6 separate regions of the Homo sapiens genome follow, and regions 1, 3, 4, 5 and 6 are each reported to be linked to region 2. Evidence: microRNA targets listed by miRTarBase, many of them from high-throughput screens and not tested one by one. Region 2 holds a microRNA gene; each other region holds the end of a gene's coding sequence.
What was found. The annotated mature microRNA hsa-miR-6086 reads GGAGGUUGGGAAGGGCAGAG and lies in region 2 at 3,084-3,103, shown strand. An mRNA with a match to its seed (bases 2 to 7 or 8) in the 3' UTR can be bound and repressed. Matches are read on the target gene's strand: a 7mer-m8 pairs with bases 2 to 8, a 7mer-A1 pairs with bases 2 to 7 and ends in A, and an 8mer does both.

Region 1 (5,076 bases), not on the chromosome of region 2:
TACTTACCCATGAGAAAGGTGGCAAAGCTTGAGGCAAAGAGTAGGAAGTAAAAACCAAATGTAGCTGTGCAGTTTTCTCCCCAACTGGGCCTCACTGAGCAATAAATTCCCAACACTAAGGCAGACGCCATGTAGGCAAATAGCCCACTTCTTTTTACACGCTGGGGGATGGATGATCTTTGTACTCGGGTAGTGTTAACCCATGTTTGTGTCAGTGGCTCACCATGCTCAGAGAGCGCCAATATTCAACGCACATAGTTAAAACTTACCAAACCAAGTCAGCACAATATTTAAGACCATCTAGTCTGTGCCAACACTGAACTAGAACGTCCTGGTGCTGTGTTTAAGGCATGATGGGTAGAAGGAAGAGAGACTGGAGGGCACATGAAAATAAAGCTTAACAGAGAAAGTAGGCCCAAGTGCCTGGGGATGGGGGCACCCGACGCAAGTCTCACTTCACACTCCTGCAAAGTCGGGGAGGATGCAGTGCTGGGAACCATCTTGAGGAGGAGAGTCATTTACTTAAAATACCAAAACCCACGGGAAAAGGCAGGTTTGCCTAGGGGGAGAGGTGATCACCTAGGAGATGAGGTAATCCCAAGAAGATAGAGAAAACAGGCACCTTCAGGAAGTAGAGGGAGCTGCAGAAAACAAGCAGACAGCCCAGGGAGGGGCCCCATCATTCAGCCAGACAGCTGCAGGCTGGTGCCACCCCTGCTGTTGGCAGCCTTGGGGAGCAAGTGGCTGAGCTCTGTCAAAGTTAGGCTGGAGAGCGGTGGCCAAGGCAGACCCCAGGATGTACCCCAGTGGCTGAAACCCCCGGCTGCACCTCACACAGGCTGCGTTCATTAGTCTCTGTTTCACATCTCTTTTCTGTCTCCTCTCCCGACCCCGTCCTCCTTTCCCAGTGGAGTGCAGAGACACCACCAGGTACTGCGAGAAGGTGAAACAGCTGAAACTCTGCCAACTCAGCCAGTTTAAATCTCGCTGCTGTGGAACTTGTGGCAAAGCGTGAAGATAGGGTGTGGGGAAAAACTCTACCCTGGCCACACGAAGGACTCACGCAACCACCTCGGACAGAACCTAAGCTTTCTTCATTTTATTTATTTATTTCCCCCTCCCCACTCCACACACACCCTTCCAACCTCCTCCACCTCCACCTTCAAGCATAAGGACGTCCGCGTGTTTTCTCTTTCAGTTAGCTGGAGGACAGGATGTTGGGAAAGGAAAGGACAGATGTCTAAAGGAGGTTGCAGAGCAGGCCAGGCAGACAGTGGGGGCTCCCTTGAAGAGCTTCCTCCCTCCCAAACCTGGGTCTCAAAGACCTAGAAAGAGGCAGGCACAGCCCCTGCGGACAGCAGGGAGCCAGAAGGTTTGTAGCCTATTGGTGCAAACATTGGACAAATTCCTGTGTCTTTCCTAGAAGCGCACTATCACAAACACAGGAGTGTTTTGCTCCTTTGTCTCCTCTTCCCCATCTATGTCCCTTTAGTCACAGTTAGGACAAATGGGGAGGGGACACCATGCTGAGGCAGAAACTAGCCCAGAACTCACTCAGTTCTTCTAGTGGGTGAGTGCAGAGAGAGAAGAACTCAGATCACCAGTAGGGAGAGGTAAAAAAGCAAACAAAGCAGGCTCTAAGGCACACAACATTGCAGAAAATGAGGAAGGGAGGGGAGGGAAGGGACAGAAGCAAAAAGGAGCCTGTGGTGTTCCCCAGTGGGGCAGGGTGAGCAGGGGCTTCCAGGCTGCATGAGGCTCATGGACCAGCTCTGATCCCATGCATGTGCGCATGCTCAGAGCCCTGCTGCCCACAACAGAGCACTGCGCTGCGTGGGAGTCCCCACTTCCCAAGCTATCAGAGTCAACGTCCTGCCTGTGCAGCTGCAGCAAAGCCAGTGAGAGGTGGGTCTCGCCATGCAGTAAGGCCACCCTGGCACCTCTTTATCTAAATCCGAAGTCCCCTAGCCCCGCACTAACTAACTGCTGCTGTGGGCCAGGGCCATTTTGAGCATGAATGGCCCAGGTTTTTTGCCTTCTAGGACCTTTGCTGCTCCACCGAAGGGCCAGGGACTATGGTTAACTTATCAACATCAACCCATTAACTAGTCACTGTGCCAGAGAGTATCTGTCAGGCTGTCAGGTTGTAGCAACCTCTTCATTCCAGAGCTGGCCCAGGGACCGGGGTGGGACAATGGGTTTATGCGTGTCCACAGTACACCCTCCCTCTCCCAGCCTCCACCCCAGGGTCTGCAGGTCCTCCGGCATGTAGTATTTATCTAGCAAGGCGGGGTGGTGGAGGCAGCACCCTGGCAAAGCAGCTCACACACTGCAGCCACACTCATCAGCTGTGGTGAGGCGGCTGGAGCAAAGTCAAAGTCATGCAGCAAAATGAAAACTCTGGGACTCTTCGGCAAAATCCTCATTAAGCCGAGCAGCTTTGGCCAAGTAATTTTTGCCTCCTTCCCTCGCGTGGCCTGAGTTTAGGAGCAAGGGTGGCCAGAGTCCCTTACCCACAGATAAGCCTCCCCTCATGAAATGCCACTCACCCCGGGCTACCATTGACATCAGGGCTGCATTTCCAGCCAGCCTGGAAGTAAAATTTGAGAGGAAGACAATATTAATCTGTGTCCCCACCTAGTGAGCTGTGGACAGGTTTAAGTTGGGTCTCCTTCTTCTTCACCACAAAAACAGGCTCTAAGAAATCATGTTACTAAAAAATCAGTGTAAAGTCTGTTTAAAATAAAAAAGAATGTTTTCTATGTCTGTATATCTTTTGTGAATATTTATTAGGATTTCTTATTAAAAAAGTGCAATATTAATAATTGTACATTGTCATCCAGAAACAAAACTATTGGGGGGACTTTATTAACTAACTTCCTGCAGTTGTGTTCCTGTAAACTCAGTAGTGATTATTATATTTTTCCTATTTTTAATAGAACCTGGTGTTTAACTCTGGATCCATTCACTGTACAGGATGTGTTGTAAAAACTAACATGGGATGCTGAGGCAGTAAGAGGGAATTCATTTGTGGCATAATAGTTATGCATGGAATGATAAAGACAGACAAATTCCATACTACTACTAATGTGGTTAATTATTTCTAGTTCGATAGTGATTGAAAATCAGTGGTCACTATTTACATTTCCTAAAGAGCAAGCATCCTCCAGCTCCATGTTGGGTTGGAGCAGTTGGCAGTGGGTCTCAGTGAGCTGGCAGAACCTAGGTTTGGGTGGGAAGCAGAATGCTCGTTGCATGAAATGAATGTACATTTAATGTTTGTTCTGTGAATTGCAACTCAGCAGCACCACAAGACAATGAAGGCTGCTGGCTAATGTGGAAGGAGGCACTTTCTCCTCTAAAACACAAAACTGTATTTGTATTTTTTGTACAGATAATACAGCTTATTTATTTAAATCTTGTCGTCTGAGTCTCTGTTAAACTCAGCCTTCCTTCCCCTGGTGGTTTATGCAGGGAGCAAGAGAAGTCCCTGTCAGTTGGGTGGTTCCCAGCCAGTTATTTGCGTCTGGCTGAAGTGGAAGGATTGCAGTTTTCATCTTTACACAGGAAGCTGGGGGCCCATGCCTAGAAGTGCTAGCTCTGTAAATAAACCCAAAGAAGCTGCGTTTGTAGATGTACACACATTCAGGCTGAGTGCAGCCAAATGAGACGACAGTTAACTCACTGACAGCCCTATGTGGTGGGAAGATGGGAGCCACAGTACCTTCGGGAAGTGAAGCAAACAGGGACATCGCTTGGGAGAGATGCAGACTTGGGTGTGGAATTATCCTCACTCATCAGGCTTCCTACCAACAGAGACACACACAGCGGGAGGCAGCTGCATGGTGAAAGTTCGGATGTATGCTATTAATAAAGACTAACACTTATAGATCACAACTACATTTAATCCTCACATTAGCCCTATGATTATCTCCATTTACATATGGGAAAATAGCAGCCCAAAGAAGCCCAAGGTCACCCAGCTGGGGGAACTAGGATTGAAAGTCAGGCAGTCCTACTCTAGCCGAAGACTCGATTTGACCCACCATGCTGCCTCCAACCCCGCTGCCTGCAACTGCTGTGCCACAGCCACCTTGGGCACGCATGCCATTCTTCCCTACTGCTTTAAGGTCGGTCAATGACAGTAACAGGACATTTTACTGAAATTGTCACTTTCTCCTACCCTAAAGGCAGTTCTTTTACCATGATAGCACTTCTAGCTCCCTATTTTTAAAGCATTTTAATAAAAACAGCTACTGTAGGAAGTGCGGGGGGGAAACAAGCACACCTGTAGAACTCTTTATAAACAGGCCCTAGTGAAAGGGCAGCATGTTGCCGGGCGGAGAAGATGTCCATGCAGAGTCTATGGTGAGAGCTGCTCCAGAAAGCCCAACTCCAGCCGGTCTGCCAGCAGCTCGCCCCGGCACACCACAGGCCTGTCGAACAGTGTGAAAATATACCAGAAAGCTCTTCTTGACATTTCAGTTACTTTTTTAAGAGGTTTTAGGTTTTGCTTTAAAGAAAAAGCCAATGCTAAAACTATACCTATTCACAGACCAGCAACCAAACAATGTCTTACAGAGGCCCCACGGCAGGAGGGAGGAGCTGGAAATGCCAGAGCAAAAACCCAGTAAGGCTCAAATGGTGGGAAGGGCCCCAATACAATGTATGTAAATTTTTCCAGCCAAAAGCACAGAGTCCTTGCTTAGCCTCAAAGATTTCCAGGAAATCCCTGATCCCATTAAGATCAGAGTGGTCGACAGTCACTGAATCTCATTTATGCCTCAGTTTCTTCTTCCTGCAACAGCATACCTCATCAGGTAGGGCTGTGTGAAAACCATTAGTTAATTCACATTGAACTGCTTGAACCCAGGAAGCAAAGGTTGCAGTAAGCCAAGATCACACCACTACACTCCAGCCTGGGTGACACAGCAAGACTCCATCTCAAAAAAAAAAAAAAGCTTGGGGGGTATCTGGCATATCATCGAAGCACTTATTGACTGTTAATTGCTATTATCATCAGCATCATCTAAGTTACCTTGGAAGAAACAGGGAGATGAAGGGCAGGGCTGACAG
Region 2 (5,076 bases):
GGTGAATTTTACGTTATGTAAATTATATCTCAATTTTTAAAATACTAAAGTAAAAAAATTATTAAGGACATCACTGTATTTGGACTGGCACTTATTTACTCAGCATACTTTATGGTTAGTTGCCCATAGTTTCTTCTTTTTTACTGATACAAAATATTTTACATATTTATGGGGTACATGTGAGTGTTACATGCATAGACTATATCATGATCCAGTTGTACTTGGGGTACCCATCAAATACTCAAATACCTTGAGTATTTACCATTTCTATGTGTTGGTAATATTTGACATCCTCTCTTCTAGCTACCTGGAAATTTACAATACATTGTTGCTAACTGTAGTCACCCTGCTGTGCTACAGAATATTGGAGTTTATCATAGGTTCTTTGGAAACTGTTAGGCGCAGACTGGGTCAAGATTGTGGTATCCCTTGCAGAATTGTTAGGAATATACAAATTAGATTAGACACATGGCTGCATTATTTCTCAGTCAAAACTCTTTAGCAGAGCATTTTAATAATATTTAGCATGCTATCCTATACTTGAATGCATATGTTTCCAATAGACTGTGAACTTAAGAGAGCAAAGACCAGGCCCTTTTCGTCACTGTACTCTATGTGCCTGAGACAGTACTTGGTACATAGCAAATGCACAATAAATGTTTTGCTTTAAAGTACTACTACTTAATGAAAGAAAAGTTTACCTTCCAGGGGACATTTGGCAATGTCTGGAGACATTTTCGTTTGTCAGAACTAGAGGGGTGTGTGCTACTGGCAACTGTAGATAAAGACCATTGTTAAATATCCTACAATGCACAGGACACCTCCCAACAACAAACAATGATCTGGCCCAAAATATCAGTTGTGTAGAAGTTGAGAAACCCTATTCTAAATGTTTGAGTGACTTATGAATCCCTAAAATTAATTCCATTAAAAAATGAAAAAAAGTTCTCTTCAAGAAAAAGTAAATGTTAAAATCATCCTCCCATTTGGTGCTCTCAGTAAATGAAATGTCTCAGACCATATCTTTATAGCTCTTAACTGAGTAATCACATTTGTGGGAGAGGCAGATCTTGAGGGAAATCTACAAGGTTGTTTAACTTCCCGACCTTGACTTAGATATTATTAACTTGCATGAAGTTCAGTTCTGTAGCAGAAAGCACATGGTAAAATGTGCATTCCTTTGTCTGTTAAAGAGCCCAGGAAACATTTTTACAGTGTATTTAATATGTGTAAGGAAATAATCACAGCCCTCCACTAAACATACAATGCAAGTATTTTCCTTCAAAGTCTGGTAGCAACCCTGTCCAATACCAGGACAGTAAGTAGGTAAACATGCAGTGAGCTTCATCCATGGCGGCACTACTTGGGGGCACTTGGTGGGGGACAGGGGGCTCACCTTTTTCAGGCATCTAGATCAGGCAAGCTACAGCCTGCTGGCCAAAGCTAGGTGATCCCCTCTTTATAAACAGCCCATGAGCGAAGAACAGTTTTTACATTTTTAAATGTTAGAAGATGGAGCAAAAGGAGAATACCATATCATGACACAGGAAAATTATATGCTATTCAAATTACAGTGTCCATAAATAAAGTTTTATTGGAACACAGTCATGCGCATCTGTTTACTATTGCCTATGGCTGCTTTTGTACTTGGACAGATATCTTATGGCCCTACAAAGCCTAAAATACTTACCATCTGGCTTTTTACAGAAAATGTTTGCCGATCTCTGCTCTAAAATTAAGCAGTTTAGCAAATTGGGTTTCCAGGAGGTCAATGGGAACGAGCCCTGGGCTAGAATTCCCAACACCCAGCTCTGCTGGGGATGTGACTCCACTCCATTGGACTGGAGTTTCCTCCTCTGTAACATAAGAGGGCTTTGCTGAACGAGCCCTTCCAACTCTTAATCATCTATAGTGTATGTTGATTCCAGTCTATTCAATGGTTCCCAGGTGCCAGTGGGATAAAAGTGCAGAGCTCTGGTCTGGGACAAAGCCACAGGATTAGAAAGTGACTGAAATAGACAAAGAACTGGATAGTTGCTGTGCGTATACAGAGCAGATCTGAAAAGTGACACTCTACAAGGTTCAAAAACATATACTTTGGACATCTTCATGTGCCCTAGTTTTATAGATTCTTTTAACCGTGGGGAAGAAGGAAATGGTTGAAACTAATTATTGAGGAAGGCTGGCAACCCCAAAATTCAGGTTTTCAAAATCTAATTTAGCACTTACTGCGGGTTCGTTGAAATTAACCAGGTAATTGACATCTCTGGTTCTTTTAGTAGTAGGGAAGAGTTTCTGTTGTCTTTTCTATTTTCTCAATACTAACATGTAGTTCTTTATCTGCAGTGCAAGGCATCACGGGTTGTTAGCATCGGCACGTCAGCCTGGGGTCTGTCACTATGGAACTAAACTGGCCTGCTGCTACGGCTGGAGAAGAAACAGCAAGGGAGTCTGTGAAGGTAATTTTGTAAAAACTCAGACCCTGCACTTGGATCAGGGCCCTTAGGTTTTTATCTGTCATACCATGAACTGCCACAAAATTGCCAGTGGATCTCTCAGGCAAGGACATGCATAACTACCAATAACCAAGGTCTGGGTTCCTATGAGATCTCTTCCCAGACAAAATGTGGCTGACGCCATCATACTTGGCATGATTTATTTTAGAAGACTGTCTTGTCAATTATTTTTGTGATTATCTTAATGAGTATGACTGGGTTGTTTGTTTTTGGTTTTCTTTTTAATCTAAAGGAACTAAGATGGGCAAAAGCAGGCTGGTAAATTTCTCCTCTAATTATAATTTAAGTGATTTCCAATGCAATAAACTTTAATTATTAATCACCCAACCAGTAGGCTTCAGCCACAAAATAAGTACACCTTTTAGCTTATAGATTTGTAACTCACATTTTTAAAATTCATACTGCCAATTTCTAAATGCTTTCAAGGTACATATGCATATATGCAAAGATTTTAAGTATTTTGCTGATTTTTTTGTACATTGCAAACCAAGGAACCATAATTTGCCTTGGACATTGTTTCTCAGACTATGTGTTAGGAACTCCGAGAGAGGCCTCTGATCATTTCAAGGAGGTTGGGAAGGGCAGAGATGAGCATAAAGTTTTTGCCTTGTTTTTCTTTTTATGACTTTCCATAACGACCAACACTGGCAGTGTAGCAGAACCAAATCCACATTCCTCCTGACTGTCTCACCAGGGGTGTATTCCTTCAGGGCAGTAGTCTACTCTCACTGTCCCTGTGTCCTTCAGTAGGTAGCATGTGCCTCATCCTAAGTTATTTATCTATTAAATGGGATAACAACACAGTTGCAGGTCCCATAAAAGCACTAACATGTTAGCTATTTTTAGGAATAACAATGCTACCTTCTTTTTGCTAGTCTGTTCCTGCCCCAACCTCCTTCTCTCTGGCTGGTTAAAAAATATCTGGATTGACCATAAGTGGGGTCAGAACTTGATAATATCCAAAATCTATAAAACAATAGAAAACATTGATATCGTTCCCACATGTTCCATATTATGCAAAACCTTCTGCCATCATAGTTTGCTTGTGACAAGATGACAAGAGCATAAAAATACTAGACAAAAACAAAGATCATCATTGCCCACTTAGATAAAGGAAGTTAGAATATCCTCCTGGGACTTGTGTCAATTAAAAGGGTGGGTCCTCATCCTGATTGGATTGATAGTGTCATGATCAAGGGCATTGAGAACCAGACTGACGTGGGTGACCTTGGGCAAGCTAGCTAAGGTAAGCTAGCTAAGGCTCAATTTCCTCCTCTGCAACCTGGAGAGAGCAATACCTACCTCTGAGAGTAAGGAATGTATGCATTAAAGGGTGAGTTCATTACCTGGCATGCATAGAAAATACCTCATAAATTACCATTCCTTCAGGAAGGACCAATAATTCTCATCACAGACTTCTCGTCATTAAAGCACCAGGTGATGGGGGGATTAAATGTGGCTTTATTCTTTTGCTAGACACAACATAACACATTTTTATTTGAAGTCAGTCAGGTGGAAAGGGGCAAAAACCACGTGAAACACATGATTTAGAGTCTCTCTTACAGTTGCACGAACATCAGCGTCTACTGCCATAAAACTTGTGAGACCCAGCATGTCGCTGGTGAATAAATGAAGGCAAGGTGTTAAAAGGGCAAGTGCAGGGGGTTCAAGCAAAATGCTCACTATGCAAGTTTTGCAAGCTGAAGAGACGGTCAGCACACCTACTGCTCCAGTCAAATGTTCAGGTCTTAAATTGCAATGATTTTTAGATCTAAAATGTGTATCATGTTTTATCCAATTTGCATGGTCCTTCTTGATGGTAAAGTCATGTTTCTTGAAGCACCAAATAACAGGGTAGTTATTCCCTGATTGCTGGGTTTCTGATTTCTAAGCCAGAGTTGTGGGATGCATGATAATAAGAATACACATCAACCTGCCCCAACAAGGAGAGCCAGACCCCAGGCTGTGAGGTCACAGTCTACCCAGGCCTTCCCCTCTGTCCATCTATTTGCCCTTCACTCCTTTTGAAGCCCTGCCTCTATGTATCCTGGAGCCTTCTAGCTCTCAGCCTCTACCCTGTCTAAATCTCCTCCCAAGGCAGGGTCTCATCAGTTCGATATCATTAACCTTAAAATGTATGCCACTTCAGTGAGATGAAATACAGAATTGTCCATAAACAAGTACCTGATGAAAAGCTTCAGATAGAGAAGTTTGGGGGAGAACCAAATAAGACTTTTACTTTGTCTAAATCATGCTTCAATCTCAGGCCATTTTAAACACAAACTGAATTTCCCTTGCTGTCGATTGGCTGTTGAAGTCACAGATCCAAAGTTACTGTAAATTGAAAACATCTTACTGAAGCTTTAACCTTATAGCAAGGGTATTATTCACCATTTCTCCTATGTTCTATTTGGCATTTATGCTGGGCTTTCCTGTCTGGACCACATTGGAAATCAGTTTCCAGGGAACAACTAGAGGTCTTCAGGGCTTAAAAAAAAAAAAAAAGATTTATTTTTCTAACATCTGAATTTAAAGTTGCAACTCCAAGTACATATCCATA
Region 3 (5,074 bases), not on the chromosome of region 2:
TAGAACCTAATAATAAATGTACTGGCAAGGGTTAATGAAAATGTTTCTCTTAAGAATCTGAAAATGTTTCAGAAAATATAAATTCATGAACTTACTTCTAAAATGTTTTTAACTTGAAGATGTAATGTTAGTATGTCAGAAGTAAACATGAAACTTTTAACTTCCTCCTCCTTGATATCATGCAAACTATGCTACTGAGACAGGAATTGAGATATCTTCATCAGGCTCTTTATAATTATCAAGAATGGTGGAGGGCCGGGCGCGGTGGCTCACGCCTGTAATCCCAGCACTTTGGGAGGCTGAGGCTGGGCAGATCATGAGGTCAGGAGATTGAGACCATCCTGGCTAACAGGGTGAAACCCTGCCTCTACTAAAAATACAAAAAATTAGCTGGGTGTGGTGGCACATGCCTGTAGTCCCAACTACTCGGGAGGCTGAGGCAGGAGAATTGCTTGAACTTGGGAGGCAGAGGTTGTAGTGAGCTGAGATCGTGCCACTGCACTCCAGCATGGGTGACAGAACAAGACTTCGTCTCAAAAAAAAAAAAAAAAAAAAAAGAATGGTGGAAATACAGAGTTTGCTTCACAGGAGATTCACCAAAACTAATCATGCTTTTTTACTAATCTTGAATATTTTAATTCTTAGGTAGATGAGGCAAAGAGCCTCACCATTTGCTTTTTGCCTAAAAATAAGGTATCTTTTCCTTCATGTTAAACTCATGCTCTTTGCTTTCCTTTCACACAATGTACCCACAAAGGAAATGATTTTTTGAATAGTCCAGAAACAAAAAGGCAAGGTCACTGAACACTTTCATCATTATTTCCCAACTTGATAATACATCTGAATTCTGAACATCTCCACACGGGCCAATATAACTTATTTTTTTTTTTTTTTGAGATGGAGTATCACTCTGTCACCCAGGCTGGAGTGCAGTGGCACTATCTCGGCTCACTGCAACCTCTGCCTCCTGGGTTCAAGTGATTCTTCTGCCTCAGCCTCCCCAGTAGCTGGTATTACAGGCGCGCGCCACCATGCCCAGCTTATTTTTGTGTTTTTAGTGGAGACGAGGCTTTACCATATTGGCCAGGCTGGTCTCAAACTCCGAACCTCAAGTGATCTGCCCACCTGGGCTCCCAAAGTGCTGGGATTACAGGTGTGAGCCATAGTGCCTGGCCTATAACTCATTTTTAACACCACACTTTACCCACAATGAAAATAGATTAACTTCCATCATATTCTCTTAATTATGGCAGTCAGAAGTTGGCTAAGGGGCCAAGCGTGGTGGCTCACACCTGTAATTCCAGCACTTTGGGAGGCCGAGGCTGGAGGACCCCTTAAGCCTAAGAGTTAGAGACCAGCCTGGGTAATACAGGGAGGCCCCTATAAGGAGACCCTCTAACTCTTTGAAAAAAAAAAAAAGTCTGTTAATGTTCAAAGGGAAGGGACGTAACTCCACATCTTGATAAGGGTAGTGGCAAGGTTCGAGAAGGGTATGAGACTTTAAATATTGTTGGGGTCATTTCTGCAAAACACAACTTGCCATAGGTTTCTTTTGTAAAATGGGAGACCAGTGATTACCAAAAGGCAGCAGGGAAAAAGAACTGGCATGATCCCTTGATATGGATATGTTTTTATGTAGGTCAATTTTAATAAAGGATTTACATGGGCACTGCGATCTGAATTTGCATTCCCTTAAAGCTATTTATGCCTGCATATCCCTTAGAAAGTTTAATATTCCCAGGAGTATGTAGACCCTTGTTTGAAGACTCTACTATAGACTACACTTCCATCCTTTAAGCATATGAATTTTTAAGATGTATACTTAATTGTAAGTTTTTCTAAAAAGTTATTCAGCATTTTTATAGAGGTAAAATGTGTATCCTAGAACATTAAAAAACAATCCCTTTCATTTTAAAGAATAATCAATTCCTTTTACTCAGATAAATAAAAATAGAGTAACGGTAACAAACCAAATGGCCAATGCCACAAGAATTTTGATAACTGAATACACTACTTACAGTGTATGCATCTTTCCTGAGGACAAAAATTTTTCTTAAAAAACTCAGGCCAGGTCTCTAGAAGTAGATGTTGGTAAGCGTTAGCAAGAAATTTTACCTTTGTTTTATGTTACACTTACAGTGAAATAAAATGTACGTAGACCATTAGAAGAGTTACAGTTTGAATGTCTTCCAAATATGATATAAATACACTGGCACAAAATCCTAACTTCTGTTTTCGTCTTTACTAATAACCCAATGATCTAAGAGATGCTTCAGTAAATTATCTCCAAATGTCATTTCCTAAAGACAACATTTCTTACCTATAAAGTTCAATAAAGTATTTAAAAAAGTATTCCCTTTGCTTTAATTTCCATTATACATCATGACCTCAACATATCTGGAAAGACATAATGTTGGGAATAAGGACTTTTTCTTTAAAATACTGGGGAAAAATTACTAAGTTATCCCTTTTATATACAGGGTGTAGGTAGAACAATATAGTAGTTACAATCAGAATTTCTACATCCATTTATCACTTAAGTACCTACTATCTTGCAGACACTATTCTAAAAACTAAGGAAATGGGGGTAAATGAGAAAGTAACAGCTACCACTTATTGAGTGCTTACTATGTGCCAGGCTCTGGCTTAAGAGTTTCATACATAAATTCATTTAATCCTCCAACACAACACCTCTATGACACAGGTACTATTAATTTTCTCATCTTACACATGAGAAAATTGAGGCATAGAGAAGTGAACTCATCCAGCTAGTAACTTGTAGAAACAGCATTTCCAAAATCCTGGCTTTCATGGAGCTTTTATTAATCTAAAAGCCTTCCATTCTTATTTTCTAGTCTCTGTGAAATACCTAATGAACAAATTTCTGTGGGTATGGTTCAAATAGGAGGTGTGACCATTTTGTTTTTACACGTTTCTTTCTGGGAATGTTGAAACAAAAGTTTTACTAGCTCTATCTTCGTATTTTGTAACTTCAAAATGCCTAGAGTCTGTGTTACATGTTAAAACACCTGATTTTGGCCGGGCATGGTGGCTCACGCCTGTAAACTCAGCACTGTGGGAGGCTGAGATGGGTGGATCATTTGAGATCATGAGTTCGAGACCAGCCTGGTCAACATGGTGAAACTAAAAATACTAAAAATACTAAAAATACATGTTCTGGGCTGGGCACGGTGGCTCATGCCTGAAATCCCAGCACTTTGGGAAGCCAAGGTAGGGGATCACTTGAGACCAGGAGTTCAATCGAGACCAGCCTGGCCAACACGGTGAAACCCCATCTCTATTCAAAATACAAAAATGAGCCAGGCGCGTGCCTGTATTCCCAGCTACTCAGGAGGTCGAGGCGGGAGACTCGTATGAACCTGGGAGGCGGACGTTGCAGTGAGCCAAGATTGCGCCACTGCACTCCAGCGTGGGCAACAGAGTGAGACCCTATTTCAAAAACAAAACAAAACAAACAAAAAAAACAAAACATGGTCTCTACTAAAAATACAAAAATTAGCCAGGCATGGTGACATGTGCCTGTAGTCCCAGCTACTCAGGAGCCGAAGGTTGCAGTGAGCCAAGATTGCACCACTGCACTCCAGCTTGGGCAACAGACTCCATCTCAAAAAACAAACAAAAAACCACTTGATTTTTAAAAAATAGTTGGGGTAACAATTCTTCCATATTTTTCTCTCCAGAACTATAGGTATATATCCATAGCATCCCTTAATTTGGAAAACCACTTCTCTACTCCAGGTAGGCCCAGTGGTGTTCAAGGTCACAGAATCCTGTCTCATTATGGTGATGTGTCCATGATTCAAGTTAATTAGGTCTCACTGTGGCCTTGGCCACAGTTAATTGGTTCAATAATACAGAAACATGATCTAAGTATGGCAAATTTGTCTTCTCTTGGATTGATGGAGATGAGAGATGTTCTTTTTGCAATGGAAGTGATTTGAGGCTGCTGGTAGCTATCTTCTTTGGCCTCAAGAGAAACTAACTCCATAATGCTAAGAGGTATAGAGAAATTCAGATAGAACACTTTGATTTAGCAATGCATGGTCTATTCTTGCCTTTTCCAGTTAAATGAGTATAAAGTTATGCTTAAATGGGTTTCTGGGGCTTCAAGTTTTAATGCATTTTAACAGAAGCATTAGATAAAATGAGTATGAACAGAACTCTGTTATTCTCATCCTCATTATTTACGAACAAATACAGAGCTGTCTACAGCTCAAAGGATGGTTTACCTATTTCATTTTCAAAAATAATTTGCAAAACATTTACCTATGAACTCTAAGTGACTACAAAGCATTACTGTAGTAAGTCTACTTCTTTATCATACCACAAAACCACAATAGCTAGAAGACAAAATGTTTTATTTTAAAACATTGAAAAAACATTAAAAGACAAATGTCCATTATGTAACCAGGAATGTTAAATATATGGAAACGGTAAATCTCTAAAATGTGGTAGGTACTTCCAGAGCTAAATGTTGCAAGTTATCCTACTTTTTTCTCTAATATCAACAATACCTGATACGATGAAAAATAACAAAAAGACCTTACTAATTATCCAATCAAAGTCATCATCTTTGGGTAAATTTATATCAACACAACTTAAAGTTTTGTCCAAGATGTTCCTGACACATGAAGCTTCCAGTTGAATTTCAGAAATGTTAACAAAAGTATCTTCCTTTTTTGCCTGTGAATGTTTGAGTATTGCTGTATTGTTGGCTTATATCCACTACAGATACTGGTTCTAGGCCAGCCCAAGGATCTTCAAGCATTGAAGGCTTGAAATAATTTTCCAACTCATTAGACATTCTTTTTTCTCTAACACGCCCTGATCCAAATGGTGTAGATGTCCTTGGAGAACCCTTTAGAAAAAAAATCAGTTAAAAAAACACTTAGTAAAGATAATTGGTACTTCTTCCTTTAGCTAAAGGTTAGCGGGAATCACATTGCTGCTTAAAAGTTGTGACTTGAACCTAAATAATGTTCAATTACAAAGTCCATGCTTCCTTTAATCAAGTGTTCCTATTTTTTAAAAAAAGTACTTAAAGCAATTCGTT
Region 4 (5,076 bases), not on the chromosome of region 2:
TAAGCCACTGTGCCTGGTTTAAAAAATAAGTTTTTATTCCTAACTAAATGAGAGTTTTCTGACATTTTCCCTCTAGACTTAGGTGTTCATTAACTCTGGCCTATATTACATCATTCTTTAAGAGGGAAAACAAGTGAAAAAGCTGAGACTTCCTTTGTAGTAAGAGACATCAGGGGAGCGGTTGTTGTGAAGAGTGGTGATGAGACAGTCACTGTCTGACAGAGCCGCCCGCAGAGTCGTTACCTTCATTTCCTGGGGCTGCACAGTGCCAGCTTCTCAAACAGGTATTATAATACTAACACAGGCTTCCATCACATGGCTTTTTTTTTAAAGTATTTTTAAAAACTTTTTATTGGGAAAAGTTAAAATGTATGCAGAGTGAATTCTGTAATGCACTTCTAGACGTCCACCCCCTACCCTCTACACAATTACCGATCTCATCCCATCTAGAGACTCCGTCCCCCCAATCTGTTTTGACTGGCTAGTATTTGCTGGTGTATCTTAAAGTACATCCTAGGTATCATTTCACACCTACATAATTGCGCCTGCATTTCTTTCTTTTTTCTTTTTGAGACAGAGTCTCTGTCGCCCAGGCTGGAGTGCAATGGCACGATCTCGGCTCACTGCAACCTCCGCCTCCTGGGTTCAAGCAATTCTTATGCCTCAGCCTCCCAAGTAGCTGTGATTACAGGTGCGTGCCACCACGCCTGGCTAGTTTTTGTATTTTTAGTAGAGACACGGTTTCACCATGTTGGCCAGGCTGGTCTTGAACCCCTGACCTCAGATGATCCACTGTGCCCGGCCTGCACCTCCATTTCTAAAACCAAAGAAATTTTCTTTAATAACTACAATACCACTATTGTGGTGGTGATCACCTAATAAGATTAACACTTCAACATCACTTAACACCCAGTCCACGTTCACATTTCTCTGTACGTACCAGAAATGCCTCTTGGTGGCTGGTTTGTCTGAAGGGTGGAAGCAGGGTCCGTGCTCAGAGCTGGCTGTTGAGCAGGTGCTGTGCTTGCTCCAAGGCCCGTGTGCAGCGAGGCCTGATGCTGGCGCCCGTCAGACGGTTCCTAACAGCACAGACGTCCAGGATTGTGTCTGCCAAGCACTGGCACTGTGTGTCTGCAGGTCTGTTCTCTAGCCTCTGTGTTCAGGGAGTGAAGAGAACGTGTGCTAACCACCGCCGCATCCCCGACGGCAACGCACGCCCAGCACAGGTGAAGGAGCTCTCTGAAGCCACGCTGTGGTCCGAGTCCCGATTCTGAAGCGGGTCAGATTTTGAATCCTGGCCAACCAGTTAACTAGTTGGTTTGTTAGCCAGGTAGTTATCCTCTAGTACAAACTACTTATCCTGTCTGGGCATCCATTTCTTCAGCTGTGAAATGGGGTGATGGTATGGGCTCACGGGTTATTGTGCAGATAAAAATGAAGCAGACTACGGCCTGGCACCCCGGAACTCGGGATCCGTTAGCTTGACAGAGACAACTCCCTTGAGGGTGGCAGGAAGCACACCCTCCAAAGCCTCTGGTTGGGGTGCGTGTACCCCTGGGATACAGTGACAATCAAGAAGAAACACCATGCCTTCTCCTAGAGTCTCATCTGAGGCTAACTTAGAGCACGTTGTTTAAAATGACACCTTCAGCTGCCTGTGAGCCACTTCCTCTCCTCCCAGCCTTTGTCGTTACTCTGCAGCACAGCTGAGCACTGCATTAAGTCAGAGCAGCACGAATGCGTAGGCTTTGGGACAAAAAGCCTCTGGGATTCCTTCCTGAACTGGCCCTGCCCACTCCCGTGGCTCTCTGTGCATACCTCTTGCCCATTGGCACCGCCCTCCAAATGCTCCTTTCAACAGATCCTCCTGGCCCCGTGCTCCTCGCCCACGGGGAAGCCCAGGTGACATTCTCTAGCTCCACCTACAGGCTGCCTTCGGGACAAGACCTGGTTGTTTCCAAAACCCCGAGGGATTCAGTGTGTGAGTGAGTTCTGGGATAGCAAATGCAATTATTTTTTGTTTTCTTTTTGAGACAGGGTCTCGTTCTGTCGCCCATGCTGGAATGCAGTGGTGTGATCTTGGCTCACTGCAGTCTCGACCTAAGCTCAAACAATCCTCAAGCATCAGCCTCCCCAGTAGCTGGGATTACAGGCGCACACCGCTACGCCTGGATAATTTTTGTTATTTTTTGTAGAGATGGGGTTTCGCCATGTTGCCCAGGCTGATCTCAAACTCCTGGGTTCAAGCGATCTGCCCGCCTCAGCCTCCCAAAGTGCAGGCGTGAGCCACTGGGCCCAACCTACCCTGGTAATTTGCCAAAGGAAGCCTTAAGTAGTAAAGGGAGAAGAGGAATGGCCCAGCCTTTGTGGGGAAGCCCTCCTGGGTCAGACACATCAATCTCTGCTTCCGGGGGTGAGGTGGGGGGTGGGGGTGGGGAGGGCAGCTCCCATCCGTCCTCACCTCCCTTTGGAGGAGAGTTCAGGTTCTGGGGGTTCAAGTCCTAGCCCCAGTGCTTGCTAACTGCGACATCTGTAGCGTGTTACTGCCTCTCAGCCTGTTTCCTGTTCTGAAAGTCAGGGCCTGTACTGATGCCTCACTAGGTTCTAAGGTGGACTAAATGCACTAAGATGCGTGACACAGGGCTGGAGCCTGGTGCCAGTGCAGTGGATGTGAAGGCTGTGATAGGGCAGGCCTGGGTTCTTTGTATCATTAGAAATTTTCCAGCTGGGGTCCTGGCATCCGCATGTCCTGGATGCTTGTTAGACATACAAGTTCTTGGGCTCCTTCCTACAGCAGTGCAATCAGAACACTGGGGCCCAGCTGGCTGTTAGGGCCTTCCAGGTGATTCTAATGCACTCTCAAGCCTGAGCAGCTGGGCAGATGGATAATTTTAAAGGTAGGGCCTTTCTGTACCACAGCAGATTCATCTTCTGGAGGCAGAAGAGAACAAAATACGTTCGCAGGAAAAATGTGATTCCTGTGTCAGAACCAAACCCTCTGAATCTCACACGACCTGACGCTGACTTCCACTGATGCTGTGTAATGCTTTCCTGCAAACTTCTCACACAGCCCAACAACCCTGAGGCTGTTGGAGGAAGCCATGACAGGTTTTGGTTGTCTTACAAAAGAAACTGAGGCTCAGAGAGATCTCCGTCATCTGTTGGACATCTACCATGGGCCAGACCTAATGAGGCTAAATGCCAGAGACACAGATGATAAACAGGATGGTCTCAAGAGGACAGGACACCCAGGGTGCAGCCACCACCCCCATTCCACAGCTGCTCTCCTACCCACCTGCAGAGTGCCAGATTTCAAACTGGACTCACTTTTACCCCCATGCTTGCTGCTTTAGAATCTTTTTAGCGCACAATTTAGGGATCTTGGTAATTGTCTTAGATGGAGACAAATATTATGCAGTATGCATTTGATACTAGCCTAACTAGAATCAATTGGCTTTTTTTTTCAATTGGCTTATTATGTACTTTGCCTTGTGATTATTTCCTGATGCAATATTCTCCTACAGCTTATAATTTCAACTACTATGTCATTGAATGCTACCTTATTTCTAAAGGACTTCATAGTTTAAATCTTTCTCTTATTTATCCTCATAATAACTGTAAGTTAGAGCTTACATAATTAACATCTCCATTTTCCAAATAAGAAAACAAGAGGCTCAGAGAGGCCACAAGATAAGTAGCAGGATCAAGTTTAATAAACGTTTATTGAGCAGTAGAATACAAGTGAGTGCCTGGATCCTGATCACCAAGTCCTGTACAACTGAGGTAATTATTTCACAATGATGGGTGGCTCAGTGAGATTCTGATTGCATGCGCTGCATGACAAATTATCTACTCAGAGTATGCCTGACACGCCGGAGGGGCTGAGGGGGAACACACTGAAAGCAGTACCAGGTAGCAGTGCATCTCACAGATCCATTTATTCATGCCATGAAGTAAACGGTACTTATACAAGTGTACAGTGACGTTCCACGCTCCCCATCTAACACGGCTTGCTGAAATTTACAGGCAGACTGACGTTTTCTTTCACATGTACTCCAAGTAAATCTGGTTAGTGATGACCAGGAGCAGGCGCTGAAGCTTTTGAAAGAGATGCATATATAAATATGATTTAAGAAGGAAGGAACAAGTTGGATGTAATTTATTAAACAAGTATCAAAAGAAGTTGATCAACAGTCCAAAAAGATAAATGACACCTTTCAATACTATTGAAAAGTAGGATTATTTCTATATGAAACACCCAGAGTGCTTAAGGGTTCATGTAATGACAGCAGACAGGCAGTGGTCACCCACAGCGCAAAGAGAGAGGCAGGGAAACACCTCCTCCTCAAACTCATGTAGCCAGTCCTGGGTTTGTGTAACATTCAAATGGCTACAGTTTCATTGTCACTCTGGCATAAATTTATAAGGCGCTTTCTTTCAAAATACATTAAAGGCCAGGCGCAGTGGCTCACGCCTGTAATCCCAACACTTTGGGAGGCCAAGGCAGGTGGATCACCTGAGGTAGGAGTTTGAAACCAGCCGGCCAACCCCATCTCTACTAAAAATACAAAAAATTAGCCGGGTATGGTGGCGGGCACCTGTAATCCCAGCTACTTGGGAGGCTAAGGCAGGAGAATTGCTTGAACCTGGAAGGCGGAGGTTGCAGTGAGCCAAGATTGTGCCACTGCACTCCAGCCTGGGCAACACAGCGAGACTCTGTCTCAAAAAAAAAAAAACCCAAAAAACAAAACCAAACCATTAAAAACACATCATTACGGGTAGGCTGAGGCGGGTGGATCACAAGGTCAGGAGATCCAGACCATCCTGGCTATGTGAAACCCTATCTCTACTAAAAATACAAAACATTAGCCAGGCGTGGCGGCAGGTGCCTGTAGTCCCAGCTACTCAGAAGGCTGAGGCAGGAGAACGGCATGAACCTGGGAGGCGGAGCTTGCAGTGAGCTGAGATCGCAGCACTGCAGTCCAGCCTGGGCGACAGAGCGAGGCTCCGTCTCAAAAAACAATAAACAAAATAAAACGACATCATTAGGGAACTTCTAGGACAGCATGCTTGCAC
Region 5 (5,076 bases), not on the chromosome of region 2:
GAACAAAATAATTTAGTTATAAGTATCAAATAGGCTTTTAAAAATCTGTTACATACTATAAAATGACCTCATAGTCTGGCTATACTTTTTTTACTTACATGTAGAGAAAATCTTGAAACAGTACATCAGACATGAAAATAATATCGTGTCATTTCATTTACAGGTCTGCATTACATTTACTGAATTTGGAAAAATGCAAAATATTTGTAACTTTCTTGTTGAAAAGCTAGATAGCTCTGTTGTCATCAGCCCACCCCAGTTCTATCATACTCCAGGTTCTGTTGAGAATCTTCGGTAAGTTTAAGCACATCTTTAACTAAGATATTCTTTAAACAAAACTATCCAGTGCTACATTTCATTGAGTGTCATATTAATAATCTCTCCATTTAATTCCTAAGACGGCAAGCCTGTCTTGTTGCTGTTGAGAATGCGTGGCGCAAAGCTCAAGAAGTCTGTAACCTTGTTGGCCAAACCTTAGGAAAACCTTTACTAATCAAAGAAGAAGAAACAAAAGAATGGGAAGGCCAAATAGATGATCACCAGTCATCCAGACTCTCAAGTTCATTAACTGTACAACAAAAAATCAAAAGTGCAACAATACATGCTGCTTCAAAAGTATTTATAACTTTTGAGGTAAAGGGAAAAGAGAAGAGAAAAAAGCACCTTTGAAATTCCAAACAAATTATATTGTACTTGTATCTTTTTACCTATTTTTATACTTTTTATAATGTTTACGTTTGTCCTGAATATATATATATATATATATATATATATATATATGGTATAGGAGATAAGCTATTTCTTTCCAAAATCTATAAATCTTTGAATATAGTCCCACAGAATACTTATGTTCACTTTCTATTTTTAAAAGACTACTCTGAAAAACACTCTTGGATAATAAATGTATTATGTGCATACTTATATACTGACAGTTCATACAAGCACATGTGTAATATTTCTATTATAAGGACAGATATTGACCCTTGCATTTCATAATTTTTAAAGATATTTAAGCTAAAATTTTCTCAGCCACATTTTTATATAAAACCAAATTTTATGTAAAAACTAGGCTTCAATAAGTTAGCTAAATTTTTTAAATTGTAAGACAAAATTTTTATGGAAAAGAATTCCTATATCCCATCAAACCTAATAATTTTCCACAACTAAAAATGAGTATAAATACATAATTTTAAGTGCATCCTGTCAGGTCTGATATTTAATTTTACTTTAGTTAGAAGCTAAGTAGTTACCCTGTTACTTCTTCATGGATGCTAACAGAAGACTTGAGATTCCCAGACAGAAACAAAGGACTATTACTCATGGCACAACAAGGAGCATGAGCATCAGCACATTCTCATTGCTTCCCCTTGTCCCAGGTCCCATGGGGGCAAAATGATATGGCCATATGCAATATGGCTACATATACAGCAGGCTTTTGTTGTAGGTAAAGAATACTGAGCTTGGAGGGTTCACTGCTTTTTATCCATGAACAGAAGCAAACCTGCTCTTTGCCTCATCCCTTATAGATGCTCACTCAAAACTCAATACTGAGAAATGGCCCAGGTAAAGAACAGCCAAGGTCTTTCATGCTTGCCACACCCAGCAATATGTTTAGGAAGGTGAAGTCTACTGAGGGCTATCTCACATCTAACAGTTTCTTTACTAGGACCAGAGACCATTTTGGTAAGATGCAGATAACAACCCCAACCTTAACAACTTCACAACATGAATAGAAATAGTGATAAATAATTCATAGCTTTTTACAAAAGAATAATGAGGTATAATAGGAAAATGTTTTGATGCCAAAAATAAAAGAGTTAATGTTTGGATCGGACTCCAACAGGGCTCCTTAGAGTGATACAAATACAAAGCAAACGATATGTGTAATTTAAAATTTCCTAGTGCACATGTTTTTTTATTTTTCTTTTTCGAGATGGAGTCTTTCTCTGTCGCCCAAGCTGGAGTGCAGTGGTACGATCTCAGCTCACTGCAACCTCTGCCTCCTGAATTTAAGCGATTCTCCTGCCTCAGCCTCCCAAGTAGCTGGGATTACAGGCGTGAGCCACTGCATCTGGCCCTGTACGCACATTTTTAAAAATAAAACTTTAAAAAAGAAACAGTTGAAACTAATTTTAATAACATTTTATTTAACCAAATATATCAAAAATATTATTTCAGCATGTAATCAGTATTTTTTAAATTGAGATATTTGTTTTATCTTCAAAATTCAGTGTATATTTTTACATAATAGCACATCTCAATTCACATGCTAAATTTTCATCAGAAATATTTTATCTGTATTTAAATTTCCTAAAATGTACAGTTGAAAAAAAGAGATTCACATACCCAGGTTGTTCTAGCATGCCTAAAAAATCTTGTAACTGGATCAAGTATCAGTTTTTAAATTAGTTAAAATTAAATAAAATTTAAAATTTAGTTCCTCAGTCACACTAGCCATATTTCAAGTACTTGAAGGCCACAAATGGCTTGAGACTACCTTGCTGAACAGACCAAGGTCAAACACTGAGATAATAATGATTCTTAAGGCCATTTGAAAGTTAACAGCAAGTATGTATTACTGCTATCTACAGTAAGAATTACATTTTATCTACAGGCAATCATAAGCCATGTCTGTTATGCAGCATAGGCTTTCCATTCTCTATACATCTAGGTCATAGAGTTTTTCCATTGATAAATCTGGATGTTTATATACCAACAGTACTTTCTTACAACATATTCCAGTATATAGTGTCCAGCTTCACCCACTTTTTAAAGTGGCCCTGAAACAATTTTATTCATCTTATTGGAGTGTTGCTGTAGGGGAAGAGTAGAAGCTAAGAAGAGTTTGAGTTCAACACCATTATATCCAAATCCTGACCTTACTACTGGAATGTAAGCTCCTTGAAAGTGGAGATCTTGTCTGTCTTGTTCACAGTTGTGTTCCCAGCCCCAGAGGTAGTCTCAGGGCCAATATCAAGTATGCTCTCAAATATTTGCTGGGAAAATTTACTAGCTGGATAAAAGGCAAGTTACTTTAATCTCTTTAATCTTCCTTTGTCCTTACAAATGAAAGAGACTAATAGTACTTAACCTTGCAGTGTTATTATAAGGATTAAAGTTGATAAATATATGATCATGAGAACAATTGCTAGCACATAACGGTCACTCTGAAAATAGTAGCTGATATATCAGCTGCATTGTTTGATTATTGTTGGCTCAATTAAAAGTTGGCTTTTCCAAATCCTCCATTAGGAAGAATTTTTAAATAGCCATATTGAAAATAAAGTTGTCAGAAAACCAATGTAACATATGTTGAATTTTTATTACCAAAAAGAAGTTACTATCCAGTTGTACAGAAAAGTAGAATGAGGTTGTGCATCAAGAAAAAAATTGTTCGTTCTCAACAAAAATTTAATCACATGGGTAGTTTTTTTTTTTTTAGCTATGGGTTCATGCTGTATTTGGTTGCATCATATTTGATAAAGAAGCTTCCAACTTAGCATGAAATACCTAAAGACAATTTTTTTTTTAAGTTAGTAGGCACTTTTTAGAATTTCCAGGAACTTTTAAAGATGTTGTCTCCAAAAAAAACAAAAAAATCCTGTAAAGTATACAATCCTACATTTTTCTATAGAAGAGCTTAGGGAAGAAATCATTCAAAGATTGGAAAGACTTATGTGTAGTATTCTGTATACTAAAGGGTATCAAATTTAGTTGTCAGTTGATAGCAATTTAATTTCTTGATACATGGCATACACTGGAATCTTATGATGAATTATTTAGGGGACCTGTGCCACAAAGTCTACTAGAATAAACCTATCCTAAACTTAATCCTGTTAGAATTTCCTTCTTTTGAACTCTGTTTAAAAAAAAAAAAATCTTTCCAGAAAGTAGGAAGTTATAATTTCTATTTTCTGAAAGACAAACAAAAATTCTAAATAGGATATTTGAAACAGACCCACTGTATCCTAAATGGAAGTGCTATTAAAAGGAAATGCTATTAAAATAAGATTTCATATATTACTGATAATTCATAATGAATTTTAGGATTCCATTCAATTACATACTAAAAATTACATTTTTTATAGTGGCAATGTACTTTTATCAGTATTCTTATTTGACGGTCAATTTGAGTTCAGTGTAAACAAATAGGACTTAGAAAAATAATTTGTAACTCAAGATGCTGTACCTCATCCTATAATTGTTGTTTTGTAATATTCCTTCTCAGGAATATGGGCTAAGGATATCTCAACTCTGTCAGATTTGTTGATAAGAATTTAATAGTAAGGAGTTCTTATAGCCTATAAAAAGCATGAATTATGAGATCAAATGTGGGAGTTACTATATGATTATCTGCATTACAAAATGAAAGCAAATGCTTTATTTATTCCAACAAAAAAAGACCTATATAAATTAGTTTAAGCTAACATTTAGACATTTACTATTACATATATGGTATTTGCAACCAAATCACTGAGTTTGTTGTTGTCGTTGTTTGAGGCTGTTGCTCTGTCACCCAGGATGGAGTGCAAGTAGCTCAATCATAGCTTACTGCAGCCTAAAAACTCCTGGGCTGAAGAAATCCTCTCACCTCAGCCTTTTAAGTAGCTGAAACATTAGGTGCACACCACCAGGCCTGGCTAATTTTTTATTAGTGATAAGGTCTTGCTATGTTGCCCAGGCTGGTCTCAAACTCCTGGCTTCAAGCAGTCCTGCCTCAGCTTCCCAGAGTGCTGGACTACAGGCTTGAGCCACTGCACCCAGCCCCAAATAGCTTCTACTCATAACCTAGTGTGGCCTAAATTTATTTAAAATGCCCGGGTAGGCCAGGCACGTTGGCTCACGCCTGTAATCCCAGCACTTGGGAGGCCGAGGTAGGCAGATCACTTGAGGTCAGGAGTTCGAGACCAACCTGGCCAATATATTGAAACCCTGTCTCTTCTAAAAATACAGAAGTTACTCAGGCGTGGTGGCGTGTGACTGTAATCTCAGCTACCGGGGAGGCTGAAGCAGAAGAAACGCTCGAACCTGGGAGGCAGAGCTTACAGTGAGCCGAGATCGCACCACTGCACTTCA
Region 6 (5,076 bases), not on the chromosome of region 2:
CAGTCTACTTTGTCTAATCTCTGGCAGTTTCCTCAATCAGCCTGTGTTGTTGGGTTATCCTGGCACTTCTTGGACATGTCCTATCTCTGTTTCTCAGCTGTCACTCTTCAACTCTCTCTCCGCTACCTTGACTCATCCTTTGTACACCTCAGGGTATCTCGATATGCATAAACTCATTCGTTTTTAGTTTAATCACGTCAGAATGGTCCAAGAATTTTGAAGCCAAAGGTTGCACCTATGTAGTGGCCCTCTGCTGCCCTCACATGGCTAGTCTATGTGCTGCATTTACATAGCCAAGAAGTGGCTTGGAACCCCGCAAGCGGTTGTACTGGAATCATGTGGCCTTGAAGAGTTAATTAAAAAAAAAAAAAAAAAAAAAAAAAGGCTGGGCGCGGTGGCTCGCGCCTGTAATCCCAGCACTTTGGGAGGCCAAGGCGGGCGGATTACGAGGTCAGGAGATCGATCTCCTGACATGGTGAAACCCCCTCTCTACTAAAAATACAAAAATGAGCTAGGCGTGGTGGCGAGTACCTGTAGTCCCAACTACTCGGGAGGCTGAGGCAGGAGAATCGCTTGAACCCAGGAGGCGGACGTTGCAGTGAGCTGAGATCGCGCCACTGCAGTCCAGCCTGGGTGACAGAGCGAGACTCCGTCTCAAAAACAAAAAGCTTAGAATGTTCAGTTTGGAGGGAACATACTAAATAATCAGCAAGAGATTTATTCGATCAACTGATATTGATTGAGCATGTACCATGTTCCAGTCACTCTTCTAGGTGTTTAGAATACAGAAGTGGAATGAGTGAAAAATTTCTATTCTTCCTATCAGGACAGTGGTTCAGCATATTATAAAATCAGAGATGTATCATGGTAAGGAGGGTGTCCAGGTGTTGGGGAAGGAAGCAACCCACTGAGGGATGTCAGAGCCTGAGTGGAGAGCACTTGGGCAGAGTTGGGGAATTGGTTACATACAGGCAAACCCATCAAATACGTAAATGTACTAAGGATACATTTTAAGGATAATGAGTATAATGGATGCTAAGTTACTTACTGTCAGAGAAGAGAGTTAAAACATGCGAAAGAAGAAAACTAGAGTGAATCCTGTGGTGTGAGATTAGAATTGGAGATATTGGTGTGGATTCATGATTTTCAATATAAATAGATAGATATAGAGATAAATATAGTGTAAATACATATATCTTCCAGCTCTGTTCACTGATAGGGCCTGGAAACAGTGATACCCTAGTGCCCAGATCCTGTTTTTTTAATACTATTATGCACTTTGAGGAATCAGGGCTCCTTGGAGAAATGCCTTTTCCATTTTTGGAAGCAAGGAAGGAACAAGGTGAGCCTTAGAATATCTTGTGCCAGAAAACAAGAAAGTGCTTGAAGAATGATGGAAATATGTCGAAATGGCACAGAAGACAACTTGCAGGGGCTCACTGGCCAAATCGAGGACAGTGTGAACATCAAAATAAATAATAGTAATGGACTATAACTCCTTATGATTTGAATAAAATAGAAGCCATGGGTCCATACTGATATAATAAATAAATGCATGACCAGGCACGGTGGTTCACACCTGTAATCCAGCACCTGGGAGGCCAAGGCAGGCAGATTGCTTGAGCTCAGGAGTTCCAGACAAGCCTGGGCAACATGGCAAAACCCCATCTCTACTAAAAATACAAAAATTAGCCAGGCATGGTAACGCGTGCGAGTAGTCCCAGCTACTCAGGAGGCTGACGCGGGAGGATTGCATAAGCCTGGGAGGCAGAGGTTGCAGTGAGCTGAGATCGCGCCACTGCACTCCAGCCTAGGCGACAGAGTGAAATCCTGCCTCTAAATAAATAAACAAACAAACTGAAAATTTGATGAGCAGTAGTCTCAAGGCACCTCCTCCCCAAATACTTTACAGTGAAGATGGCTTGCAGGCCTCACCTTAATCAAGTGATCCAAGTGAACATCATCAATAATGGGGCAAATCAAAACTGCAAAAACTGAATGCCACCTGAAAGGATGCAGTGAGAACATCACTTCTGTGGTATTCCTACCAAAGATGCATAACTTAATGGAATCGAGAGAACACCAGAAAAACCTTAGGTACATTCTATAACATAACTAGTCTGTGGTCTTCAAAAGTGGCAAGGTCATAAAAAGTCCAGAAAGAAACAACTGAGGAAATAATCCAGATTCAAAGAGACTTAAAAAACATGACAACCAAATACAATATGATTCTGAATTAGATGCTTTTGTTATGAAGGTCTTATTGGGACAATCGATGAAATTGAGTGGAATCTGATGACTAGGTGGTAGTAATGTATCAGTGTTAATTTCCTAATTTGGATAATTGTTTTGAGGTTTTATGCAGGAGAATGTCTTTATAGGAATTACACACTGATGTAATCAGGGCCATTGGGTATCATGTTGGCTATTTACTCTCAAAACAGTTCTGAAAAATAAAAGATCTTTGTACAGTACTTTTATATTTTTTAAAAGATTGAGTTTATTTCAATGTTTTTTTAAAAAGTGGAAAAACCTCTGTCATTTTGGAAGTTATATTTTGGTGAGAAGAGACAAATAAGTAAAATATGTAGTATATAAAATTATTATAGACTTGAGCCCTGAGGCACTCTCACATTTAGAAATTAAATAGCAGAGAAAGAGTGAGCAAGAAGGACTGAGAAAGAACAGTCAGTGAGGTAGGATGTAAATAAGGAAAAGCCAAGGGATTAAAAAACTGCTAAAAGTATGAAGCGGTTCACTTTGTCAAATGCTGCTGAGATGAACAAGATGATCACTGGAATTAGCACTGAGGAATCATGGGAGAAATCCTGGAGGAGCAGTTTCAGCTGGGTGAGGATAGAAGCCAGATTAGAGAGGGTTGAAAAGACACTGGGAGGTGAGGTCATGGAGTTGGTAAGTACAGACATACTTCCCCAGAAGTCTTGCTGTAAAGGGAGCAGAGAATGGAGTTGCAGTTGGAGGATTATGTAGGGTCAGTGGAGTATTTGTTGTAAGATGGAAGGTTACTAGGGCAGACTGTAGAATGATGGAGGTGATCCAGCTAAAAGGGACAAACTAGGGATGCAGGAAACAGCCTGACTTGGAGTAGTGAGAGGGATGGGAGGGAAACTGCATGTGGAGTCAGTGCTGTTGGCAGGAGCAGAGGCTCTTCATCCTGATAATAGGAGGGAAGGAAGGAAGGATGGGCCTGTGGGAAGGTATGACTGCTGCTTTGGGATGTAGAAGGGAAAGCTTGGTATGAAGTTGCTTTTGTTTTAGAAGTGTAATATGAGGCCAGGTTATCTGCTGAGAGCAGAGGAGGGTGGAGGATAAGGGGGCAGAGGAGGAGGCTGAATGTGTGTCTTGAGGCTTTGAAGAGAGAAGAGGAAAAGTAAAATAGTAACAGTCATTTTGGAGACTAGGGACATAAAAATGGAAGGATTGTAGAGAAGTAACTAAAATGGTCAGGCAGACTTGAGGGCTCATTTGAGATTTATGGTTATGAATTTAAAGTGAGACCTGTCAGCATGCTTGTGAATTTTTCTCCAGCAATATCTGACTATTTAAGTGAGGTAAGTGACGATATAAGAGATATTAAGAGCACCAAATCATATTTTTTCAAATATCTGTATTCTTTTCTTCAGAGACACTATAGGAGTCTAAATAAAAACAGACAAGGCATGTGTTGCAAAGCCTTTAATTAGAATGTTTGTATTTTTTACATCATGCATAACTTCACATTTGTGATTAATTAGTAATTATTTCAATACTTGTAAGCTCATCTGCCTCAGATTTAATCATAATACATGAATTAAATTAATCAAATTAAGGAACAGCAATTTAGAAAGAAACACACTTTAAGAAATCAAAATTCTCAATTCAGGCAGTCTGTTTCTATCATTTGGTATTCTACTCCTTTAAAAATTTCATATTGCCCAACAAAAAGTGGTTATTTTTACTGTTTTTGGAGATGACTGAACAGATGAAGGCATCAGATGCCTTCATCAGCTGGTATTTTGCCTAAGATCTATTTAAGATAACCTTTTCTTATATTTTTTACTTAATATTGGGCATAATCGTATCATTCAAGATTAAGTCTGGGTTATTTCTTTGATAAGAACTGAATGTGGCCGGGCGCAGTGGCTCACGCCTGTAATCCCAGCACTTTGGGAGGCCGAGGTGGGTGGATCACAAGGTCAGGAGATCGAGACCATCCTGGCTAACACGGTGAAACCCTGTCTCTACTAAAAATACAAAAAATTAGCCGGGCGTGGTGGCGGGCGCCCGTAATCCCAGCTACTCGGGAGGCTGAGGCAGGAGAATGGCGTGAACCCGGGAGGTGGAGGTTGCAGTGAGCCGAGATTGCGCCACTGCACTCCAGCCTGGGCGACAGAGCGAGACTGTCTCAAAAAAAAAAAGAACGGAATGTACTGGAGATGTATTTGATAACCAAGGTTTTAGGTAAATTTTCACCAGTATTAGTTCTATTTGCAAACTGAAAAATGTTGTAGGCTTAATGTAAAATAACCACATTAGTGAACATTATATCTCTTAGAAGAAAGGCCATATTTTGCTCCTGCTTCTGTAAAAATATTATTTGTTTGAAGGGGAAATAATGGTAGTGTGACCTTTCACTTAATTCCTACTCCCTTAATGTGAGAGAGACAAAATGAGCTGAAGAAGGAAAATTCTGGAGTTACACTCCACAACCTTGAACATACTGACGGACATCTCTGTTTTGACAACGATTTCTCCATGCCACCCTGTAGAAAAAGATGAAGCAAATGGTGAAAGGTTAAAACATATCTTCATTGTAATATACATACTTCGCACTCCTTGGGGAAACAAAATATTTTATCAATAGATAAAATAGTAAGATAGACCCAGCTATTGCTATTTATTAAATGAAGATATGTATACAAAATACTTCACTCCTACCCAAATTTCTCAGTAGAGCATAGAATGCCGAACATAAAGATTGAGTAATGTGCGTTGTACAGCAGCAACTGCAAAGTGAATTCCACATTTATTTTTTATGTATTTATTTGAGACAGAGTCTCACTCTGTCGCCCAGGC

Region 1: miRTarBase lists ADAMTSL1 as a target of hsa-miR-6086. Seed matches in the 3' UTR shown: 7mer-m8 at 1,142-1,148 and 7mer-m8 at 2,151-2,157.
Region 3: miRTarBase lists MPLKIP as a target of hsa-miR-6086. Seed matches in the 3' UTR shown: 7mer-m8 at 469-475.
Region 4: miRTarBase lists ATP5MJ as a target of hsa-miR-6086. The part of its 3' UTR that is shown has no 7-base or 8-base seed match.
Region 5: miRTarBase lists IRAK1BP1 as a target of hsa-miR-6086. Seed matches in the 3' UTR shown: 7mer-m8 at 1,991-1,997.
Region 6: miRTarBase lists LYZ as a target of hsa-miR-6086. Seed matches in the 3' UTR shown: 7mer-m8 at 4,343-4,349.

Annotation. Positions count from the first base shown.
Region 1 is chr9:18,907,534-18,912,609 of GRCh38, forward strand. It overlaps ADAMTSL1 (ADAMTS like 1), which reads left to right. Exons shown (of 29, transcript NM_001040272.6): 29 at 909-3,417. The coding sequence ends at 1,015. Among named protein-coding and RNA genes, the nearest start is that of SAXO1, 120 kb to the right of the region's middle.
Region 2 is chrX:13,587,210-13,592,285 of GRCh38, forward strand. MIR6086 (microRNA 6086) reads left to right here and starts at 3,083; the gene lies at 3,083-3,137. EGFL6 (EGF like domain multiple 6) reads left to right here. Exons shown (of 12, transcript NM_015507.4): 2 at 2,347-2,459.
Region 3 is chr7:40,128,381-40,133,454 of GRCh38, forward strand. MPLKIP (M-phase specific PLK1 interacting protein) reads right to left here. Exons shown (of 2, transcript NM_138701.4): 2 at 1-4,879. The coding sequence ends at 4,679. Among named protein-coding and RNA genes, the nearest start is that of MPLKIP, 3.7 kb to the right of the region's middle.
Region 4 is chr14:103,908,597-103,913,672 of GRCh38, forward strand. ATP5MJ (ATP synthase membrane subunit j) reads right to left here. Exons shown (of 4, transcript NM_004894.3): 4 at 3,692-4,098. The coding sequence ends at 4,070. Among named protein-coding and RNA genes, the nearest start is that of ATP5MJ, 10 kb to the right of the region's middle. RefSeq lists an enhancer at 2,190-2,690.
Region 5 is chr6:78,897,666-78,902,741 of GRCh38, forward strand. It overlaps IRAK1BP1 (interleukin 1 receptor associated kinase 1 binding protein 1), which reads left to right. Exons shown (of 4, transcript NM_001010844.4): 3 at 164-294; 4 at 399-5,076. The coding sequence ends at 669. Among named protein-coding and RNA genes, the nearest start is that of IRAK1BP1, 33 kb to the left of the region's middle.
Region 6 is chr12:69,352,840-69,357,915 of GRCh38, reverse strand. It overlaps LYZ (lysozyme), which reads right to left. Exons shown (of 4, transcript NM_000239.3): 4 at 3,682-4,763. The coding sequence ends at 4,697. Among named protein-coding and RNA genes, the nearest start is that of YEATS4, 4.4 kb to the left of the region's middle.